Homo sapiens: one gene and its partners. The protein of the gene in region 6 purifies or fractionates together with the protein of the main gene of each other region. This does not show direct contact. Each region holds a gene or a part of one and is shown on either strand. Other genes may lie near its edges. The genes, in order: RRP36, PXK, DHX36, C1orf174, WDR89, DDX55 and SNX3.

Region 1 (2,738 bases), on a different chromosome or scaffold from region 6:
CCTGAGGAGCAAAGATGAGATGGGTGAACGGGAGGGATCTGTTCAGATCTGTGAATATCTCCCACCTTTAATTGCTTTCATTACCCACCACAATTATTACCCACTCACCATTCGCTGAAGCAGTTGCTGCAGTTTCTCATGCTCCTCTCCTGAAAGGTGCTTCTTCAACTGTTTTTTCACAAGCTCCACATTGGAAAATGAGTATCATGGTTAGCATTCTGCAAATGTTAGCTGAAATTTTATGTAAAGCATTATCCTAAGAAGTTCACACACATACACACACACACATTTTTTTTTGAGATGCAGTCTTGCTCTGTCACAGGCTTGAGTGCAGTGGTGTGATCTTGGCTCACTGCAACCTCCGCCTCCTGGGTTCAAGCAATTCCCCTGCCTCAGCCTCCCAAGTAGCTGGGACTACAGGCACGTGCCACCACGCCCGGCTAATTTTTTTTTTTATTTTAGTAGAGACTAAATTTCACCATGTTGGCCAGGATGATCTTGATCTCCTCCTTTTGTATTTTAGTAGAGACTAATTTCACCATGTTGGCCAGGATGGTCCCAATCTCCTGACCTCGTGATCCACCTGCCTCGGCCTCCCAAAGTGGTGGGATAACAGGCATGAGCCACCGCACCCGGCCAGAAGTTCACATATATTAACTTGATAACACCAAGACAGTAACTGTTTGTTTGGAGACAGTCTTGCCCTGCTGCCCAGGTTGGAGTGCAGTGACACGATCTTGTCTCACTGCAACCTTTGTCTCCAGGGCACCAGCAATTCCCATGCCTCAGCCTCTTGAGTAGCTGGGACTATAGGCATGCAACACCACACTTGGCTAATTTTTCTATTTTTAGTAGAGATGGGGTTTCACCATGTTGGCCAGGCTGGTCTTGGAACTGCTGGCCTCAAATGATGTGCTCACCTCAGTCTCCCCAAGTGCTGGGATTACTTACAGGCGTGAGCCACCACACCCGGCCTCCAAGACAGTAATTATTATTTTATTTTTTTATGATTAGAAAACTAAAGCATAGAGAGATTAAGTAACATGCCAATAATCACACAGCTAGTAAACTGATGAGCCAGGATTTGAATATGAACTGAATTGGAGAGAGTTAAATCTGCCCACCACTATACTTCCCACTCCCCCTGCCCAACTCTCTAACCTGTGCCCTCATTTTCCACCCCACAAAATTCCCCATAAACCAGTCTCAAGCTGTATACCTCTTTCTCTTTCGCTCGGATGTCATTCAAGAATTGGTATGTTTTGTCAAACACCTCAGGATTATATTCCCCTGACAGATCATCAAAGCGAGGGTCCCGGGCTACCTTTGGAGAGAAGAGAGAGAATATAAAACACAACTGTTCAATCTCCTTTCACTGAGAAAAAGTGCTTCCTGTCTCTTCCTCATCTTTCTTTTTTTTTGCTTTTTGAGACACAGTCTCGCTCTGTCGCCCAGGCTGGAGTGCAGTGGTGCAATCTCGGCTCACTGCAAGCTGTGCCTCCCAAGTTCACACCATTCTCCTGCCTCAGCCTCCTGAGTAGCTAGGACTACAGGCACCCGCCACCACGCCCGGCTATTTTTTTTTGTATTTTTAGTAGAGACGGGGTTTCACTGTGTTAGCTAGGATGGTCTCAATCTCCTGACCTCGTGATTCGCCCACCTTGGCCTTCCAAAGTGCTGGGATTACAGACATGAGCCACTGCGCCCGGCCTCTATTTTTTTTTTTTTTTTTTTTTTTGAGACAGAGTCTTACTCTGTCCCACAGGCTGTAGGGCAGTGGCATGATCCTGGCTCACTGCAACCTTCACCTCCCAGGTTCAAGCGATTCTTGTGCCTCAGTTTTCCAAGCAGCTGGGACTACAGGCACACACCACCATGCCCAGCTAATTTTTGTATTTTTAGTAGAGACAGGGTTTCACCATGTTGGCCATGCTGGTCTTGGAACTCCTGATCTCAGGTGATCGCCCACCTCGGGCTCCCAAAGTGCTGGGATTACAGGCGTGAGCCACAGTGCCTGGCCTTCTTCCTTACCTTTTTACTAATGGGAACAACCTGACGTAAAAATGGTACTCGGATCTTGGCTGACATTTCCAGAGGCCTATGGAGAAATTAAAAGCCAAGTCAAGAGGACTCCAGTGTTGGTCAAAGGCTTCCCACCTGTCACCCAAGACAACATACCTATTCAAGGTCCCAGTTATCTTCCAACTTCTAGGGCAAGCCTTGCTTACCTGTGCTTATCTGCAACACATGCATTTTGGATAGGTGGTCTAGAAGCTTGTTTCTTAGGACTATTTCCAGCTACCAATTGTTTGTACGTCTTAGTCCCCACTTGGCTCTGCAATTCCAACAGCTCCTCAAATGACATGTTAGATGTGCCTGTGGAAGTGGGGAGGGACATACAACTCAGCTCAGCATGTCCCACTGCAGAAAAGACATCTTCCCATCCCCATTCCTTAGCTAGCTAATCCTAATACCCCATCAGACCAATCATTATTAGAAGTCCTAGGCAGCAGAGGCTGTGATAGTGTTAAACTCTCCAACTATTTCAGCAACCTGGGGCCTCATCTTGCTAAGGAAGGTGTATATGTAAGGTCAAAGGTGCACCAAACCATAGTCCCTTCTTTTTCTCTTTTACTCATTCTTTTACTCTCTCTTTTACTCATTCACAGGTTTCCCCAGAAGGGCATCTGCCTCCCTTGCTCAGTTACCATTGCCAGTGTCCTGGTCCACATGCTCAG
Region 2 (3,500 bases), on a different chromosome or scaffold from region 6:
CGGGTCTGGATGCCAGGTAGAGGAGTATGCCAAAGGAAGAGGTCCTTTCTCATGCCCCTAATGCCTTCCTGCCTTTCCCTCTTTTACAGAAGAAGAATGTGGTGAGACAGCATGGACCATGCATGCCCGCAACTATCACCGGCCGGCATGCTCTGATCAGAAACCCAGACTGCCCTTCCTGGACATGTTTGTTTCCCACATAGACTAGGCAGGACTGAGGGCAGGACTGTCAAGTATTCAGCTCTGCAGGGAAGCATTTAGCCTAAAGGCTGGCTGAGAGTAAGTATGCTTAAAATATTTGCAGAGGGAACAGTCAAAGGTCAATCACTATAAAAACCACGGCAGAGGATGGGGACACTAAAAGGCAAAGAGGAACCGTTATCAATTTACCTGTTTCTGTTCCTCAATTAGTCTCTTCTCTATACATTCTTTGGCAATTCTCAATGCCTCTTTTAACTTTGTAGGGATCTGAAAGGAGAGAAAAGTACATCATCTATTGAAAAAGGTGGCTGGAGATACTTCCAAGTCCTGGAGTAAATGAAGGAGCAGGTGGTTATCAAGAGTCATTTCGGCCGGGCGCGGTGGCTCATGCCTGTAATCCCAGGACTTTGAGAGGCCAAGGCGGGCGGATCACGCGGTCAGGAGATGGAGACCATCCTGGCTAACACGGTGAAATCCCATCTCTACTAAAAATACAAAAAATTAGCCGGGCGTGGTGGTGGGCGCCTGTAGTCCCAGCTACTCAGGAGGCTGAGGCAGGAGAATGGCGTGAACCCGGGAGGCGGAGCTTGCAGAGAGCCGAGATCACGCCACTGCACTCCAGCCTGGGTGACAGAGCGAGACTCCATCTCAAAAAAAAAAAAAAAGAGTCATTTGGAATAAAATCAGTTAAAGCTGTCCATTCAAATCCTACCCCAGCCACTTTTGGTATCCCTAACACACTCACTTCTCTAGCATTTTTTAGCAATGAACACATAAAACTAAAACATAAATAAACATGATATGTTTCAAGTAATGCAAGTAATCCTCAAGGGCTGTAAATTGCCAAAACAATCTGAAAAAGAAAAATAAAGTTGAAGGCCTCACATTTCCTGATTTTGAAACCTATTACATAGCTACAGTAATTAAAACAGTGTGGTACTGACATGCAGGCAGATACACAGACCAATGGAAAAGAAGAAGAGAGAGCCCAGAAATAAATGCTTGTGGATATGGTCAAATAATCTTTGACAAGGGTTCCAAGAACATACAATGGGGGAAAGGACAGTGTATTCAATAACAGTGCTGGGAAAATTGGATATCCACATACAAAAGAGTGAAGTTGGACCCTTACCTTACACCATAAACAAAAATTAACTCAAAATGGATTCAAAACCTAAACATAAGACCTAAAACTATAAAACTCCTAAAAGAAAAGACACAGGGGAAAAGCTTCTTGACACTGGATTTGGCAGTGATTTCTTGGATATGACACCAAAAGCACAGGCAATAAAAGAAAAAAAATTAAACTTCATCAAAATTTAAAACTTTGGTGCAGCCGGGCAAGGTGGCTCACGCCTGTAATCCCAATACTTTGGGAGGCTGAGGTGGGTGGATCACTTGAGGTCAGAAGTTCAAGACCAGCCTGGCCAACATGGCAAAACCCCGTCTCTACTAAAGATACAAAAATTAGCCAGGTGTGGTGGTGCACGCCTGTAATCTACTTGGGAGGCTGAGGCAGGAAGATCACTTGAACCTGGGAGGGCGGAGGTTGCAGTGAGCTGAGATTGTGCTGCTGCACTCCAGCCTAAGCAACAGAACGAGCCCCTGTCTCCAAAAGAAAAAAAGAAAAATAAATAAATAAATAAATAAATAAAACATTGGTGCAACAAAGAAAAACGGAGTAAAAGACAACTCAAGAAATGGGACACAATATTTGCAAATCATAGGTCTGATAAGGGGTTAATATCCAGAATATATAAAGGAACTCCAACAACTCAACAACAAAATATAAGTAACCCAATTAAAAAGAGGCAAAAGACATAGACATTTCTCTAAAGAAAATATACAAATGGCCAAAAAACATATGAAAAGACACTCAATGTCTTTAGTCATTAGAGAAATGTAAATCAAAACCACAATGAGACATCACCTCACAGCCATTAGGATAGCCACTATTAAAATAATAAAATAAATGTTGGTGAGAATGTGGAGAAACTGAAGCCCTTGTACACTGCTGGTGGAAATGTAGAGTAGTACAGCTGCTATGGAAAACAGTATGGAGGTGACTCAAAAAACTACAAAATGGAACTACCATATGAGGAATTCCACTTCTGGGTATACATCCAAAAGAATCAAAAGCAGGATCTCAAAAAGATATTTGCACACCCATGTTCACTGCAGCATTATTCATGACAGACAAGAGGTAAAAGCAGCCTAAATGTTCATCAACAGATGAATGGATAAAAAAAGTGTGGCATATACATACAATGGAATATTACTCAACCTTAAAAATAGAAGGAAATCTTGTTACATGTTACAATATAGATGAACCTTGAGGACATTATGCTAAGTGAAATAAATGATCCACAAAAGGACAAATACTTATATAAGGTTTCTAGAGTAGTCAAGATCACAGAAACAAAGTAGAATAGTGATTGCCCGGAGCTGTGGGGAGGGAGAAATGGGGAGTCATTATTCTATGGGTATAGAGTTTCAGGTTGTAAGCTCTAGAGACCTGTTATACAATAATGTGAAGATAGTTAACACCACTGAACTGTACACTTAAAAATGGTTCAGAGAGTAAATTTTATATTGTATTTTTTATCACAATTAAAAATTTAAAAATTAGGTCAGGCACAGTGGCTCACACCTGTAATCCCAGCACTTTGGGAGGCCACTTGGGGCCAAGAGTTCAAGACTAGCCTGGGCAACAGTAAGACTCTGTCTCTACAAAAAAATTAAAAAATTAGCAGGGTGTGGTGGTACGCGCCTGTTGTCCCAGCTACTCAACAGGCTGAGGCAGGAGGATTACCTGAGCTCAGGAGTTTGAGGCTGCACTGAGCCCCGTCATTGCACCACTGCACTCCAGCCTGGCAACAAAAAATCGCCTACTTCAAAAAAAAAAAAATTAAAATTAAAAATTAAAAAAATTGGCCGGGTGCAGTGGCTCACACCTGTAATCCCAGCACTTTGGGAGGCCGAGGTGAGTGGTTCACCTGAGGTCGAGACCAGCCTGACCAACATAATGAAACCCCATCTCTACTAAAAATACAAAAATTAGCCAGGCGTGGTGGCGCATGCTTGTAATCCCAGCTGCTCAGGAGGCTGAAGCAGAATTGCTTGAACCCAGGAGGCGGAGGTTGCAGTGAGCCGAGATCATGCCATTGTACTCCAGCCTGGGTGACAAGAGCGAGACTCCGTCTCAAAAGAAAAAAAAATATTTAAAAAATTATATAAAGCTTATTGGAACATACATAAATTCAACCAGTTATTATAACTTCAGAGATATCTTCTTTGTG
Region 3 (3,500 bases), on a different chromosome or scaffold from region 6:
ATATCTTCTTTTGAAAAATGTCTGTTCTTGTCTTTTGCCCTCCTTTTAAGGGGATGATTTGTCTTTTATTGTTGTTGTTTGAGTTTCTTGTATATACTGGGTATTTGTCCACTGCTGGATGAATAGTTTGCACATATTTTCTTCCGTTCTGGAAATTATCTGTTTACTCTGTTGATTATTTCTTTTGTTGTGTAGAAACTTCTTAGTTAATTCCCATTTGTCTATTTTTATTTTTGTCGCCTGTGCTTTTGAGGTCTTAGTCATAAATTCTTTGCCTAGACCAATGTCCAAAGGAGTTTTTCCCTAGGTTTTCTTCTAGTAGTTTCAGTTTCAGGTAGTCTTCACCCTTTTATGGGGACTATATTCCAGGAAATTGCATAAAATTACAGAATGGTGAAAAATAAACCACTTTTGTCATAACACACTTTTGTAGCTAGACTTAAATATTTTCACTAATATATAGCAGTTACTGTATATGCTGATAGTAGGAAGAAATGCTAAGTAGGTAATTTTTCTCTTCTTTTTTCCACCATCTGTTGGAATTTGAGTAGACAGGTTAATGTGGTCTGTCAGTGTATACTAGATATACTTATTGGAAAGTTTTACTTGTAAAGTATTATTTCTTACAAATTATGCCATTTTCTATTTCTAATACCTTATTATCACTGTTCTGTCACAGAATAACTGTTGGTTACTTTTAGTTGTACAAATCAGTATTAGATTATAACATTTCATCTTTCCAAATCTTATTTTTGGCAGTCATAACTTTCAAAACATGACCAAGAACTAGAAATTCAACACCAGTCCCTACCACAAACAAAAACACAAGGGAAGAGTATCAATATGTAATTACTTTCAAATTACACATAACTTCTACAAGTTTAGATCTTGATTTACAACTCTTAGAAAAGACCAGAAAAGTATAAATTAATGAGAGGATGCTATAGAAAGGCACTTTGAAACTAGTGATGAGAGAACTTGGCCTTAAAAGACTTTATAAGAGGAAATGAAAAATAAACAGCTCTTAAGAGAGGCACACACTGTTTTAGATACCTCAGATTTTAATATCTATTTTTTTAACTCATTTAGAAATCTGAAGAACAATTTTTCAACAGTCCTAGATTTTCATGGACATTCAGGATATTTGTTCTAAAGGAAATTATATTCTCTTTATGTTTTATTTGAATTAAAGGTTGCGGAAAGAGTAGCTGCAGAAAGGGCAGAATCTTGTGGCAGTGGTAATAGTACTGGATATCAAATTCGTCTCCAGAGGTAAGAAATGTTCACTTCTTATATACAGGCAGATTTTAGTGAAACTTTGAAGCTGGAGATTCAAAAGAAAGGATATTTTCCCCATTTTTATGATGGTTATTACTATTACAATTACCATTTAAAGTAACTGCAGCGTAGATGACTTGCTGCCACAAATTTATCTTTTAACCCCACATCAGACTTGTATTGCCTTTTTTAAATGATGCTTTTATATTTGGAATGATTAGAAAAATAAACATTTTTCCTGGACATAGATTAGTAGACCATTACTCTCTCTGAAAAGATTGTGTAGACCTTTCAGTACCACCTCCATATACTTCCGACTGACTTTTTATTGATTTTGATATCTTAACCCCCTATCCAACTCCACTGTGCAGTACATAGTTGGTCCTTTTCTGGAGCTTAGGACTCCATTTGCCTTTTTATGTTTTAATTTACTTAATGTTTTTTAGAGATAGGTTCTCACTCTGTTGCTCTGGCTGAAGTGCAGTGGTGCAGTCAACTCACTGCAGCCGAAGACTCCTGTGCTCAAGCAGTCCTCCCACCTCAGCCTCTCAAGTAGCTGGGCCTACCGGCGGACACCACCACAACTGGCTAATTTTTTTACTTTTCGAGCCTGGATCTCGCTGTGTTGCCCAGGCTGGTCTTGAGCTCCTGGGCTCAAGCAACCCTCCCATCTTGGCCTCAAAGTGTTGGGATTACAAGCCTGAGCCACCATGCCTGACACATTTGCCTTTTCAAATGAGCTTTCCAATTACGAACCAAATATTTAGGCCCCATAAGTAATTCAGTTGTTGTCTGAATGTGAATGGTCGTATCTTTTAAAAGAAATTAACATTATATCAATGACAACAAAGATAATGTATAATGAACTTGAAGTATTTCCCATTACCCCATTGTGGTAGGTGTTCTTATAAGTAAAAAATTAAGTGTGAAGATTTTCATTAAAACTGAAAGCATTTCTAAAATTGAAGATATAAACCTTTGTGGTAGTTAATTATTAGAAGAGAAAACCAAGGCTTATTAATTCATGTCTTTCATTCACAGTCGGTTGCCAAGGAAACAGGGTTCTATCTTATACTGTACAACAGGAATCATCCTTCAGTGGCTCCAGTCAGACCCGTGAGTATGTTTCAATTAAGGAAATATAAGTGTTATCAAAAGATGTAATTATTAAATTGGATTTTACTAGTTGTTAAAGAAAAATGGTTTTAAAATTTTGTACTTCACACTTCTGCCTTAGGTATTTGTCCAGTGTTAGTCATATCGTACTTGATGAAATCCATGAAAGAAATCTGCAGTCAGATGTTTTAATGACTGTTGTTAAAGACCTTCTCAATTTTCGATCTGACTTGAAAGTAATATTGATGAGTGCAACATTGAATGCAGAAAAGTTTTCAGAATATTTTGGTGAGTAAAATGTATAGTTATTACATTAGAAAAGGTACTAGAAAAACAATTAAAAAAATTAATATGGTACTAGGTAAAGAGTAGTCAAAATGAATGTTTAGCTGTTAATTTTATTTTAATATTATTCTACCCTCCAGTTTCATGGATTAGACAATTGGGTCTATTTTTAAATGGTGGCATCATCTCTCATAGTGAGGACAGGTAGCTTCTTGTTGCTACCACCACACAATTAAGATGGCATCATTGAAGTCAAACCACAGATTTGCATAATTTTATAAACTTCTTTCTGTTGTTTTTCTGTGGCTTTTATCACAGGTTAGGGTGGCAGTTTGCTGCTAATACTGCTAGTGACCACTTATGGAACACCTTCAATGTTCCAGGTAGTATATTTGCCACTTTGTCTTCCTTAGTCTTTATAACACTTTATGAGGTAGTTGCTATTATCATTCACATTTTTACAGATGAGAAAGCAGCCTCAGAGCAGTTAAGTAGGTTTCCCAAGCTGAAGCTAGATTGGACCAGCTGCAAAAGCACATTCTTTTAAAATTAATCCTCACTGTCTTTCCTGCTTATACTTGTGAAGGAAGGAGGGGGAAAGGGAGGGAATTACAATGTAATATATTTATGTTTAATAAATGTTCTTGTCATCAGCTTTTTAAAAGTCCTTTAAAATACATCCCAGTTAATACTGAAAACCATGTAAGATTAGTTGGGGTAGGTGTTATTATTGTTATTTTTAAATGAGACTTCTAGAACTAACATTGAGTACTTTGCTCAAATGTGTGCACATCATGGGTAGAGCAGTGATACCTACTTAG
Region 4 (3,500 bases), on a different chromosome or scaffold from region 6:
ATCTTGATATTGTTTATCATGGCTACCTTGGTCCTTTATATATGTATAAATCCAACATCTGGTCACTCTCACAGACAGCTTCTGTGGCCTGCTTTTATTCCAGTGTATGAGCCTACTTTTCTTTTTCTTTGAGTGCTTCATAATTTTTTGTTGGAATTATGCCTTCATAATTTTTTTGACATTTTAGATAATACATTTTAGCAATTCTGGGTACTGTCCCCAACCCTGGGGCTTGTCATTGTTAATATGCTTATTTGTTTAGCAACTGGGTAGATTGTTTTGATAAAGTATATTTCCCCTGCCACAGTGTTCAGCCTGTGATGTTGCTGGTGGGGGGTGGCACCCAGCCACTCTGGATGACAGTGGTTTTAGTGAGGTCCTTTTCCTCTTTCCCTGACCACATCCAGCTGTTGAACTTCGCTAATGCCAGGTTATTGTGCTGTTCTCAGCAACAGCCTGGGCATAAGTTGCTCTACAAACTAATCCAATCAAATTGTGGCTTCTTCGAAGGGATACTTTCTAAGGTCAGTGTTTGGTTAGTTTGTTCTGTGTCCAAGAGGCCTCCTCCCAGCCGTGTTAGTCTCTGGTTCTCTTCTGCGAACTGGTTGGCCTACAATTTGGCCTATTGCTTGATTCTCCACTGCCTCCACCCCCTTCGTCACAGCATCCACGGTACTTGAACAGCTCCCTTAGGCCGGAACTTCTCCACATTCCATGGCAGGGAATTTGGTGCCTTTGGGCAGGTGTAAGAGCTGTCTGTTTAGTTGCCTGCCTCTCATCCCAGGCAGAGCCTCTGAGCCAGGGCCTGCAGCTGAGGACAGTAATGGGCTCCTCTCTGAATAGGGGCTGGGGGAGCTAGCAGCAGCCTGAGATCCTCCAAATGTGTCTTCCCCAGCCTGGAACCACCTCATATCTAGGACGGGGTTGATGGGGCCCCAGTCTTCTCCGTTCACTGGGCGGAGCCTCTTGCAGAGGCTTAAACCGTACTGGTAGAATGGAGCCAAGGTGAAGCCTTCATTCTACAAATAGGGTCTGAGCAGAAAGGAGGGCCCCTCTTCTCAATCCTACTCACTCAGGACCTGGTCTCAGTCACAGGTGGGATGAGAGCAGAAAGGGAAGCACTGCTATCCTGCCTCTCCTGGGAAGACACCCCGCTGCCTGGGAGCTGGGGAGGTGGCCCTGTGTTCTTGGCTGCAGCAGGATGGAGCTCAAGTGCCACAGACTCTCCGTGTCCTTACCAAATGTATGTAGGTGTTCTGGAGCAAGTGTTTCTTCATTTGCTGGGTGCCCATAGGACCATTTCCAAAGGCTCTCTAAATGGCTGTTTTGGGACTGCTCATTACTCTCTGAGAAGGTCAGTGAAGCTCCTCGAGCCATCATGTTGAAGTCAGTCTCGGCCAGCCCTTTTGGAGAAACCATGTTTGTGCTTCTGACATACCAGTTATTAAACAATCTACTGGAATGAGGAGAATCTCAATGATGAGAAAGTCTTTCCTTTTTTGGACTGTGGGAGCAGTCCAAGCTGCCCAGCTGCAGAGCAGGAATCTGCAAGTGAGACTGTGACCAATTCTTGACATTTTGGAGTTGACACCTTGGAGGTGGTTAATCCATGACGAAACTGAAGCTAAGCCGATCTCATGTTTTGACTCCTGTCAATCCGGAGAGGACAGCAAATGGCCTGCTCAGGTGTCTGTTAACAGCCAGCGCTTCCAGGCCCACCAGATCCTCAGGTGTCTGTTAACAGCCAGCGCTTCCAGCCCAGCAGATCATCTGGCTTTTCTCTGCAGAAGGGGCCAAAAGGTCCACCTGATGAACCTGTTGCACGCGAAAAGTTCAGAACCACTGCTGCCAAGATGCTGACAGAAGCCTTGAGAAGCACCTGCTGCGGGAAAAGACGTGCAGGCGTAGAACACAGAGCGGGTGGCAGCTTCTTCAGTTCAATCCCCACCTCAGGCAGTTGTTGGGGGTCATATCTAGGGTGAGCTGTGGTGATGGAATAGAGATTTGGAAGCCAGGCATCACTCGTATAACCTCATAAGCTCCTTACCCAAGTTGTCCTCATCTGAAATGGGTGTGCCACTCCTTTAAAGCTGTTCAGGCACCGAGCTGGGCTCCCCACACAGCATACTCCAGCACAGAGCAGCAAAGCGCCCGGAGGAGGGCTCACAGCAGGGAGGAGAGGTGGGGCAGTGGCTTTCTAGGTCAGAGATGTCTTTTCCCTACGAGGCACGTGATGGCGTTTTAGGGAGATGGGCTTGTTTAAGACCCAGTGGGAGGATTTTGATGAGAGATGTTTATGGCAACTCTTAGCAAGTTCTGTAACCTCTGTTGCCTCAGTCCCCTTGGTGTAACTGTGACCATGACGTCTGCCGGGGCTCTCAGCAAAGCCCTGCCCTTGTGAGAGGACGGAGGCGCAGCCCCCGGTGTGCTGTGGTAGCAGGCACTTCACCCAGCCTGTGGGCAACTGGCGTGTCCTGTGTACAGCAGGCGGGCGTCCTGGCCTCCGGTGGGCTGCTGCCTGCTCTTCTCCCTCCTGTTTCAGACACACACTCTGACTGCCACAGTATCACAGGACCTTGGAGCTGCCACCCCACAGGGTTTCTGGAGCTGTCTTGGGCTACGGGGTGCATGGCTGAGACAGATTATTTCTTTTTTTTTTTTTTTTTGAGACGGAGTCTTGCTCTGTCACCCAGGCTGGAGTGCGGTGGCGCAATCTCGGCTCACTGCAAGCTCCGCCTCCTGGGTTCACGCCATTCTCCTGCCTCAGCCTCCCAAGTAGCTGGGACTACAGGCGCCCACCACCACGCCCGGCTAATTTTTTGTATTTTTAGTAGAGACGGGGTTTCACTGTGTTAGCCGGGATGGTCTCGATCTCCTGACCTTGTGATCCACCTGCCTCAGCCTCCCAAAGTGCTGGGATTACAGCCGTGAGCCACCGCGCCCAGCCGAGACAGATTATTTCTGTGTTTTATTTTTTTGTTTTTTTCCTTTTTTTATTTCTCTTATCTGCTGTTGGGCAGGGCACTCTTCATCCGTCCCCTTCTGGGTTCCAGTTCTAGGGCCTGTTGGCAGCAGCTCTTGGGCCTTTCCCGGCCATGTCAACCTGCATTGCTCCTGTTTGTTGCTTCTACTACTCACACTCATTCCTTTCGAGTTTTCTAAGTGCAGTGTGGTATTGTGGACTGGATTCTGGAACAGAAAAACGGTTCATGGAGAAACCGATAAAATACAAATAAAATCTATAGTTTAGTGAAGAGTACCGTAATGTCACTAATTTCTTAATGTTGACAATGTCCTGTAGTTGTTTAACATTAGTGGAAGCTGAGTGAAGGCTACATGGCAACTCCCTGTACTATTTTATTATTATTATTTTTTCAGAGACACTGTCTCACTCTGTCACCCAGGTGGAGTGCAGTGGTGCAGTCATAGCTCACTACAGCCTCAGACTCCTGGGATCAAGTGATCCTCTCACCTCAGCCTCCCACATAGCTGGGACTACA
Region 5 (3,500 bases), on a different chromosome or scaffold from region 6:
GGCATAGGCCACCATGCCCTGCTAATTTATTTTTTGAAGAGACGGCGGGGGGGTCTCCCCATGTTGCTCAGGCTGGTCTCTAATGCCTGGCCTCAAGCAGTCCTCCTACCTCAGCCTCCCAAAGTGCTGAGATTACAGGTGTGAGCCACCACTCCTGGTAGTGAATTCAGTATTAAAGAGTGATTGAATTAGAAGGCAACTGAGTTTTAGTTACATCATAGGAAGGAAATGATTATAGTATTAGAATACATTTCTGTTGATTGATTGATTCATGCCAGCCCTCAGAGGAAAATGTTCTTGATTTAATTGCAATTTTAGAGAAACTTCAAGTTAAATTTTTTTATGTGTCTCCCTTGTTAAGCATTAATTTTTATTTTTATTATTATTATTTTTTACAGAGTTTTACTACCCTTGGATGCTGCTGTTGACATGGAAAAGATTGAGGAACAATTTGCTAATCTGCACATTGTTAAATGTTCCTTAGGAACCAAAGAGCCCACTTACCTTCTTGGTATAGACACATCAAAGACTGTCCAAGCAGGAAAGGAAAACTTGGTTGCTGTTTTATGTTCTAATGGATCAATCAGAATATATGATAAAGAAAGGTTAAATGTACTACGAGAATTTAGTGGATATCCTGGACTTCTTAATGGAGTCAGATTTGCAAATTCCTGTGACAGTGTATATTCAGCATGTACTGATGGCACTGTGAAATGCTGGGATGCTCGAGTAGCCAGAGAAAAACCTGTTCAGCTCTTCAAGGGTTACCCTTCCAATATTTTTATCAGTTTTGATATTAATTGTAATGATCATATTATTTGTGCTGGTACAGAAAAAGTTGATGATGATGCATTGTTGGTGTTTTGGGATGCAAGGATGAATTCTCAGAATTTATCTACAACTAAAGACTCACTTGGTGCATATTCAGAGACACATAGTGATGATGTCACTCAAGTACGTTTCCATCCCAGCAATCCCAACATGGTAGTCTCAGGTTCATCTGATGGCCTGGTAAATGTATTTGATATTAATATTGATAATGAGGAGGATGCACTGGTTACAACCTGTAACTCAATTTCATCAGTAAGCTGTATTGGTTGGTCTGGGAAAGGTTATAAACAGATTTACTGCATGACACATGATGAAGGATTTTATTGGTGGGATCTTAATCATCTGGACACTGATGAACCAGTTACACGTTTGAACATCCAGGATGTCAGAGAAGTAGTTAACATGAAAGAAGATGCTTTGGACTATTTGATTGGTGGCCTATATCATGAAAAGACAGACACATTGCATGTTATTGGAGGAACAAACAAAGGAAGGATTCATTTGATGAACTGCAGCATGTCAGGACTGACCCATGTGACTAGCCTTCAGGGAGGGCATGCTGCTACAGTCCGTTCTTTCTGTTGGAATGTGCAAGATGATTCTTTGTTGACTGGAGGAGAAGATGCACAGTTGTTACTTTGGAAACCTGGAGCTATAGAGAAGACCTTTACAAAGAAAGAGAGTATGAAAATAGCATCCTCTGTGCACCAACGAGTACGAGTTCATAGTAATGATTCTTATAAAAGAAGGAAAAAGCAGTGATAATGCATTTGGCACTTTGTTTGGTAGGTTTTATAGTTTCAAATAGTCCTTCTTGTTTACTACCCATGGTAGACATGTTTAAAGCTTTATGTAAAAACAAGCCAGTTAGCAAACAGTCCTGGAAAAATATGGTGAGAATGGTTTAATTCCGGTCTTCACATATTCTAAAAAATTTTAAAGCCTCTAAGTATAAAATCAGTGAGTTGAAAGTAAAATTTCTTATTTAAAGAACCCATCTGTTAATGTAGTAAATGTTGGCTTTAAAGAAATAGCTCCGATAAGGACTTTTTAGAAGGAAATACTTGGTAAAACTTAATAAAACAGGTGGTTGGCTGCATTTTTTAAGCCCAGTTTTTTACATTTTAAATTGTCTTTATTGTGTATAAAACCAGATTAGACTATATTCTTCATCTGAGGAGCATCTATATGTTTAATACACCTAATGTATTATGCTGGAGTATTTAAATGTAAGTATTTTAATGAGTAAATAGAATTAACCTTTTTTACAAATGAAATGATAGGCATCTATGTAAAGTGAGAAAAATATGTTTCGTAAATATTTGCATCTTTAATATTGTTAGTAAGTAGTAAACAGGTGTTTTGCTGATTGAAAGGAAGTTATCTTGGTAAATTGAGACTCAAAGTGAAATACAAAAATGAAAATATTTATAATAGGACTCGACTTGGAGAAATTGCTATTCTTCCTGTTGTCCAAACCATAAATCTGAGGATAACCTGGGCTTTTCTCTTTCCTCTTCTCCTAACCAGTTTTTCACCAAGTCCTGTGCCATTTCACCTCCTAACGTCTGTCAGCTATCCTTTTGCCTTTACCTCACCACTATTACCCTAGAGAAGACTTTCATTATTTCTCATCTGGATTACCAGCTCGATCTCTAATCTGCTTCAGTTCATCCTTCTTGCTACTTCTAGGCTAAACATCAAAAACAGATCTGGTAGGGGCGGGGAAATGAGGGGGAAGAAACAAAAACGTGATGGTGCCTCATGCTGCTTAAAATCTTCAGTACATTGATGTTTTGATGGCGGACTACATAAGCGTTAAAAATTGTGTTTTTCAGAATCTTTAAAATATAAGACAGTGCTATCTAGTGAATAAAAAAATTAGTTTGAAAGATATCTGGAGAAATCGCATTCATAAAACAATTGGAAGTGAAACTATTAAAACAATAGGGCTTTTTAAAATTAAAAATATTTAAAATTCAAAAGTAATTAATAGTGTTGGAAGATGTAGGTGAGAAAATATTCCTGAAAGTAGAACTGAAAGAGACAAAGAGAAAAGATGAAAGCCACAGAAGATAAATACAGGGGTCAAAACCAGACTAACAGTTTTAGAAAGTGAAAAAAGTTAAAAAAGAAATGGGGGCAGTGGGTTATTAGAAATAACATAAATGGCTGGTATGGTTTGTCTGTGTCCTCACCCAAATTTCATCTCGAATTGTAATCCCCATAATCCCCATGTGTCTAGGGAGAGACCTGGTGGGAGGTGATTGGATCATGGGGGTGGTTTCCCCTACGATGTTCTCCTGATAGTGGGTGAGTTCTCACAAGATCTGATGGTTTTATAAAGGGCTCTGCCCCTTTAACTCCTCACTCTTTCTCCTGAAGCCTTGTGAAGAAGGTGCTTTGCTTCCCCTTTGCGTTCCCCCATGATTGTAAGTTTCTTGAGGCCTCCCTGGCCATGCTGAACTCTTCAGTCAATTAAACACTTTCCTTTATAAATTACCCAGTCTTGGGCAGTTATTTATAGAGTGTGAAAATGGACTAATATAGTGGCTATTCCAGAACTTCAATCTTTAGATTGAAAGGCACAGCAGAGTGTCAAGTGTAATGAATGAAAAAGATCCACATCAAGGCATAGCACTGTGAAGTTTCAGAGTAAATAGAAAATC
Region 6 (3,500 bases):
CCTGGGAGGCAGAGCTTACAGTGAGCCGAGATCGCGCCACTGCGCTCCAGGCTGGGTGACAAAGCGCGACTCTGTCTCAAAAATTAAAAAAATTACATTTTTACAAAGTTAAAAGGAATACTCAGCAGCCAGTGGCCAGTTTATTCTGTGTCTACTCAAAACCTGGGAACACTTCCTTTTATGAGACAAAGCAATCTCATACTTGTAAGACCACCACATAGTTAAGATGGAGACATTATCACATGAAGAAGTCCAACTTACCCTTTAATCTGAAAATCAGGTTGCATTCATGCTTTGCATAAGCTTGGACATATGACACAAAAGCTTTCATGCCCTTTTCAAACACAGCTCTGTCAGCCAGGGCCATGGACTTGAGTTTTGGCAGAAGGTCCGCTGTGTTTCTCTGGGGCTTCATCTCCTGCAGGGGGCACTACACACACACACATACCACATTCTCACCTTCCCTGGCTGGCATCATATCCCCAGGGCTCCCCATCACAACCAAGAAAAACAAAAGCGAAACAATTCCTTTTCAACTGTTGAGGTCTGAAGCCCAACTCCAACCCAAATATTTCACATGCTCTGTAAAGTATGTTAAATTTTTAAAAGAAAATTTAAAAATCAGATTTCACATGACAATCCTAATCTGGTAGCAAAGTATGGCAACACTGGGTCTCTATTCACAAGAAGTAACCCTTGCCTGGGTCCCAGCAGGGCATGCTACCACACAGGAGACTTGGTCACTCCATGACCGAGGTGCCTCCACAGCCTTAAAGCCCACCAGGGTGGCCGGGCACGGTGGCTCACGCCTGTCATCCCAGCACTTTGGGAGGCCGAGGTGGGCGGATCACCTGAGGTCGGGAGTTCAAGACCAGCCTGACCAACATGGAGAAACCCCATCTCTACTAAAAATACAAAATTAGCTGGGGTGGCGCATGCCTGTAATCCCAGCTACTTGGGAGGCTGAGGCAGGAGAATCCATTGAACCCGGGAGGTGGAGGTTGCGGTGAACCGAGATAGTGCCATTGCACTCCAGCCTGGGCAACAAGAGTGAAACTCCGTCTCAAAAAAAAAAAAAAAAAACCCCACCAGGGCCCCCCACTGCCACCACCAGCCCAGCCCCAGTGAGTTTGCAATTCGTAATTTCAATTGCTGACCACATGCTGGAGAACTTTTCCAGCTACCCCGTCACTAGGCATTCTATCTGAAAACGGACGGCAGCTTACTTTTTGGTTAATTGCAAGGAAATTGATGTATGACTCTTCCATGGGCAGGAGGAACACCAGAGCGCTGCCCCCGTGGCCAATGCGAGCTGTGCGACCGCAGCGATGCACGAAGGCACTGTGAGAACACAGGGTGGAAATGGGTACCCAGGTGATGACAGCTGAACAGAGCTCAGGCTCCAGCCACATGGCTGCTGCAGCTAAAACGCTCTGGGGAGCCTCTAGCCTCCACAGCTCAGTGTGGACTCGGCCACTTACTAGTGTGAGAAATAGAACTGGCAATTAAACCAACACTGCAAACAGATACGATTCTGTAAGAAACATTTAATGTGAACTCTTAAGTAAAACTTGTATCTTTCTCTCTGATCATACAGGTGGGACATAGTCCCCAGTGGAAAATCTGGGAAACAATGAAAAATACAAAGAATAAAATGAAAATGACCAATAACCTCAGGAGTAATCATCAACACTTGGGGGTTTATAGGCATTTTCCTATGCGTGGAAGCATGTATTAGGAATATATGCTGACTTTGAAGAAAGTAATTGTAATTTTCACATGTGGTGGTATGTATTGCTTTTTTCATTTAGACATTCTATTGTGTGTTTCTGCAAGAACTGATAATATTTGAAAGTACTTTTAATTGCTACCAATACAGTATCACGATTTCACCATGAATGGGTTATTCATCCATTTGCCTATTTTTGCTACTTAAAACAACGGGTTTTTGTTTTGAGACAGAGTCTCACACTGTTGCCCAGGCTGGAGTGAAGTGGCACAATCCATTGCCACCTCTGCCTCCTGCGCTCAAGCGATTCTCCTGCCTCAGCCTCTCAAGTAGCTGGGACTACAGGAACACACGCCTGGCTAATCTGTATATATATTTTTTGTAGAGACAGGGTTTTGTCCTGTTGCCCAAGCTGGTGAATTCCTGGGCTCAAACGATTCACCTGCCTCGGCCTCCCCAAAGTGCTGGAATTACAGGCGTGAGCCACCGCGCCCAGCCTCAAATAATGTTGTTGTTTTTTGTTTTCTCTCATTGTCTGAAATTTCTATAACCTTGCTCTACATGGAGCACGGCAAGGCCTCAAACCATTTCAAAACTGTTCTGGCAAGCCCTGTAGGAATCCACGGGGTCACTGCAGACCCAAGCACGCTGGAGGCTTGCTATAAAATGTTTCAGTGAACATCATTATCTGTTTATCTTCTTCGGGATTCCTCCTTTATTAGGCTAAATTCCTCAACAGAGAGTGGGTGGCAGCCTCGTACCATACCTTGCATTGCTGGGAGGGTCATACTGCAAAACCCAGTTGACTTCAGGAATATCAATTCCCCGGGCCATCACATCAGTGCACACTAAAATCCCACTAGGAAATGAGAAAAAAGCATTCTGAGTAAGGAGGCCACCATCTTCATCACCATCAAACAGCCTACTGATCTCGATGACAGTGACACACAGGTGCTGGAGCTTCTCACAGAAGCAAATGTTTAAGGTAATATTTTGATTTTTTCTTCTTTCTACAAATCTCTGGGACTTCATAAATTCCAATAAAAATTGGAGGGAGGTGAGAGACAGCAAAGGGATTTTAAAAATTACAGCACTGCCATTTGAAAACCAAAACTGTATGGGTCTAATCCTTTGTAGCCATCTGAAAAACAACGGACAATTCACTCCATAACTGAGGCCTAGCAGTCAGGTATATCACTTTGTCCAAAAGAAGACTTTTAATATAGTCAGATGTTCAATGATTAAGAAAAACAGAAAACTATTATTTGTCAGCACAAGCAGATACAAGTTATGGTCATTGGTAGACACAAGTTGCCTGCTGTATAGTCACAAGCCTAATAAGCCACAGACAGTTTTTTGTTTTTTTGTTTCTTTGTTTGTTTGTTTTTGAGATGGAGTCTCACTCTGTCACCCAGGCTGGAGTGCACTGGCGCAGTCTCGGCTCACTGCAAGCTCCGCCTCCTGGGTTCACACCATTCTCCTGCCTCAGCCTCTGGAGTAGCTGGGACTACAGGCGCCAGCCACCATGCCCGACTAATTTTTTGTTTTTAGTAGAGACAGGGTTTCACCACGTTAGCCAGGATGGTCTTGATCTCCTGACCTCGTGATCCACCCGCCTCGGCCTCCCAAAGTGCTGGGATTACAGGCGTGAGCCACCGTGTCCGGCCTTAAGCCACAGACAGTTTCTACCCAGACAGGACAAATGGATTTGCTCCTTGCTGCTTGACAGTCATCACAACCTTTCCCTGGACCGGGCACAGGGCAATCTGGG
Region 7 (2,660 bases), on a different chromosome or scaffold from region 6:
CCACGCCTGGCCTATATTAGATATTTTTAAATTCTGAAATAATAGTCCGGTTGCCCAGTGTGGTTTTAAGCAGGCAAAAACAAACAAAATACCTGGATATTTGTGCCTGTTTTTTTAGTATTTTGGGCTTTTATTGAACTTCATTGTATTTCTAACTTCAATCCTGTATCTTCTCCTCTTTAAAATAGACTCTGGCCTGGTACAGTGGATCATGTCTGTAATCCCAATATTTTGGGAGGCCGAGGTGGGCAGATCACTTGAGGTCAGGAGTTCCAAGGCCAGCCTGGCCAACATGGCGAAACCCTGTCTCTACTAAAAATACAAAAATTAGTGGGGCGTGGTGGTGTTTACCTGTAGTCCCAGCTACTCAGGAGGCTGTGGCAGGAGAATCGCTTGAACCTGGGAGACAGAGGTTGCAGTGAGCCAAGATCACACCACTGCACTCTAGCCTGGGTGATAGAGCAACACTTTTGTCTCAAAAAAAAAAAAAAAAAAAAAAGATTCTTAGGATCAATTGACATGCTTCACTTTTAACATTAAAATTAATTTAAGTTTCTTATGAATACACCAGCTATGATGTAAAGCTAATTGGGTACATGTGCCACAAGCAGTGAAAAATTTGTGATTAATGTTTTCTTAATTAGAGTTGTGAACCAAACAAAAGAACATATACCATTAGTTGATAGTGCATAGCTTTATGGACAGTCCAGAATAATACTTATTGGTAAACTGTACATGATTCTGAGCCGGGCGCAGTGGCTCACGCCTGTAATCCCAGCACTTTGGGAGGCTGAGGTGAGCAGATCACTTGAGGTCAGGGATTTGAGACTAGCCTGGCCAACATGGTGAAACCCCGTCTCTAGTAAAAATATAAAAATTAGCTGGGCATGATGGCACACGCCTGTAGTCCCAGCTACTCAGGGGGCTGAGGCACGAAATCACTTGAACCCAGGAGACGGAGGTTGCCATGAGCCAAGATCAGCCACTGCACTCCAGCCTGTGCAACAGAGCAAGACTCCATCTCAAAAAAAAAAAAATTATACATGCTTCTCAACTTTAAAATATGTGTTTTGAACTCCCCCACCTTGTATAAAATATTGGACTAAATTTATATTTTTTATTCTCAGGGTCGCTGGTCATCCTCTGGCACAGAACGAACGTTGTCTTCACATGTTTTTACAAGATGAAATAATAGATAAAAGCTATACTCCATCTAAAATAAGACATGCCTGAAATTTGGCAAGAAGGGGCAAAAACGTGACTATTAATGATTGATAAGCACCAGTGAAGAAGTTCTAACTTTTAGCATGCTGCACAGAAACTGGTATAACATGCCTTCAGTATACTAACACTCATATGCTCAGTTTTGTTTTGTTTTGGCAGTTGACAAGAAGTTAATTTGCTTTAGTAAAAATCCCTCATTCCAGCCTTTCTATATAAATAGCTCTTTCTTGCTGTTTTAATGTGGTGCACACTATAGCCTCACAAACCTGTTATTCCAGTGTAATCTGCAGTGTCGTAACTAAAGTTACTGGCTTGGTCTTATTTGCACAGTTTTTGCGTCTTGTTTGCTTCTTGCATCTGATTAACTAGAATATTTCTCTTTCCCCCTTTTAATTTGTGATGTCACTTGACCCCATTTATGTGTAGGAGCACTACACCATTGGTTTCCAATACTGCACACATAAGATACATACTTGTGTGCAGAAAGTATCTTCCTCCAGGCTTGTAATACCCTTCACATGGAAGATTAATGAGGGAAATCTTTATATTCTGTATAAAAACAAAAGCAAATTTATATACTAAAATCATTTGTCTAAAAATTTAAGTTGTTTTCAAATAAAAATTAAAATGCATTTCTGATATGCACTGATTGTGTTGCCTCCAGCTTTTTTTGCTCTCTATGAGTGACTACTTAAGTCACTTGTTGAGAGGGATTATTTACTAATTATATACTTCTCATTCCTGTAACTCCATTCCCTTTAAACAGTGGTGATATCAAATATACTTCCATCCATTGAATGGGGTATTTTTAACAACAACAAAAGTGATATACTAAAAAATGTATTGCTTAAGGCTTATTGAATCATTTTGAAGCACTTTGTGTATTTGAAAACTGCTTTATAATCTCATTTATTAAAAGGACTTTCAAAGATAAAATACCATTTCTCCTATTTTTCAGAAGTTTTTTCCTAGTCAACTGAGTGACTTGTTTAAACAAACTTAGCAAGGGTGTAATAACTCTTCTTAGTCAGCAGGTTTGTGCTTTCTCTTTAATTTGGTTTGGGATAGTAGCACACTTTATCCTCTTTAAGAGAAGGGCACAGTCTTCTAGCCTGACCTGCAAAAATGATAAGATACCAGAAAACACATGACTTCTTGCTGCCTAACTTGTGTTGTGTTCAGACCTTTCAGCCAGAATGTGGTCTCTAGTTTGTACAACTTGCGGTGGTTTGGGGACCCATTGTGACTTGGAGTTAAATCCCAAAGTAAAGAAATTTTGTCCTCCTACAGCAGATGCGTCTCCTCTGAAGATGGATCAGTCCATTTAAAAGGAAACAAGCTTGGGTCTTGGCCAAACTAGGATGTCCACCAAGCACATAGAAGTCATAGGAAGAAGTCAGAGTTGCCCCATAAGGCCTTTTGTTGCTCAAACAGTA

Evidence for each region.
Region 1: the proteins of DDX55 (region 6) and RRP36 purify together in Homo sapiens (affinity purification with mass spectrometry; one large-scale study listed by BioGRID and IntAct). This does not show direct contact.
Region 2: the proteins of DDX55 (region 6) and PXK purify together in Homo sapiens (affinity purification with mass spectrometry; one large-scale study listed by BioGRID and IntAct). This does not show direct contact.
Region 3: the proteins of DDX55 (region 6) and DHX36 purify together in Homo sapiens (affinity purification with mass spectrometry; one large-scale study listed by BioGRID and IntAct). This does not show direct contact.
Region 4: the proteins of DDX55 (region 6) and C1orf174 purify together in Homo sapiens (co-immunoprecipitation; one large-scale study listed by IntAct). This does not show direct contact.
Region 5: the proteins of DDX55 (region 6) and WDR89 purify together in Homo sapiens (affinity purification with mass spectrometry; one large-scale study listed by BioGRID and IntAct). This does not show direct contact.
Region 7: the proteins of DDX55 (region 6) and SNX3 purify together in Homo sapiens (affinity purification with mass spectrometry; one large-scale study listed by BioGRID and IntAct). This does not show direct contact.

What each region holds. Positions count from the first base shown.
Region 1 is NC_000006.12:43,024,623-43,027,360, reverse strand, and holds part of RRP36 (ribosomal RNA processing protein 36 homolog), read right to left. Parts: intron 2,377-2,738; coding exon 2,229-2,376; intron 2,099-2,228; coding exon 2,032-2,098; intron 1,325-2,031; coding exon 1,220-1,324; intron 232-1,219; exon of another isoform or gene 184-231; coding exon 109-183; intron 2-108; coding exon 1-1. UniProt on the Homo sapiens protein: Involved in the early processing steps of the pre-rRNA in the maturation pathway leading to the 18S rRNA.
Region 2 is NC_000003.12:58,405,892-58,409,391, reverse strand, and holds part of PXK (PX domain-containing protein kinase-like protein), read right to left. Parts: intron 469-3,500; coding exon 391-468; intron 1-390. UniProt on the Homo sapiens protein: Binds to and modulates brain Na,K-ATPase subunits ATP1B1 and ATP1B3 and may thereby participate in the regulation of electrical excitability and synaptic transmission. May not display kinase activity.
Region 3 is NC_000003.12:154,303,988-154,307,487, reverse strand, and holds part of DHX36 (ATP-dependent DNA/RNA helicase DHX36), read left to right. Parts: intron 1-1,192; coding exon 1,193-1,272; intron 1,273-2,319; coding exon 2,320-2,394; intron 2,395-2,515; coding exon 2,516-2,682; intron 2,683-3,500.
Region 4 is NC_000001.11:3,893,773-3,897,272, reverse strand, and holds part of C1orf174 (UPF0688 protein C1orf174), read left to right. Parts: exon of another isoform or gene 1-1,978; intron 1,979-3,500.
Region 5 is NC_000014.9:63,596,872-63,600,371, reverse strand, and holds the end of WDR89 (WD repeat-containing protein 89), read left to right. Parts: intron 1-398; coding exon of another isoform or gene 399-429; coding exon 430-1,593; 3' UTR 1,594-3,333; downstream 3,334-3,500.
Region 6 is NC_000012.12:123,615,599-123,619,098, reverse strand, and holds part of DDX55 (ATP-dependent RNA helicase DDX55), read right to left. Parts: intron 2,715-3,500; exon of another isoform or gene 2,589-2,714; coding exon 2,496-2,588; exon of another isoform or gene 2,452-2,495; intron 2,390-2,451; exon of another isoform or gene 2,259-2,389; intron 1,788-2,258; exon of another isoform or gene 1,342-1,787; coding exon 1,227-1,341; intron 503-1,226; coding exon of another isoform or gene 431-502; coding exon 262-430; intron 1-261. UniProt on the Homo sapiens protein: Probable ATP-binding RNA helicase. Has ATPase activity and is involved in the maturation of precursor large subunit rRNAs.
Region 7 is NC_000006.12:108,210,722-108,213,381, reverse strand, and holds the end of SNX3 (sorting nexin-3), read left to right. Parts: intron 1-1,127; coding exon 1,128-1,233; 3' UTR 1,234-2,160; downstream 2,161-2,660. UniProt on the Homo sapiens protein: Phosphoinositide-binding protein required for multivesicular body formation. Specifically binds phosphatidylinositol 3-phosphate (PtdIns(P3)).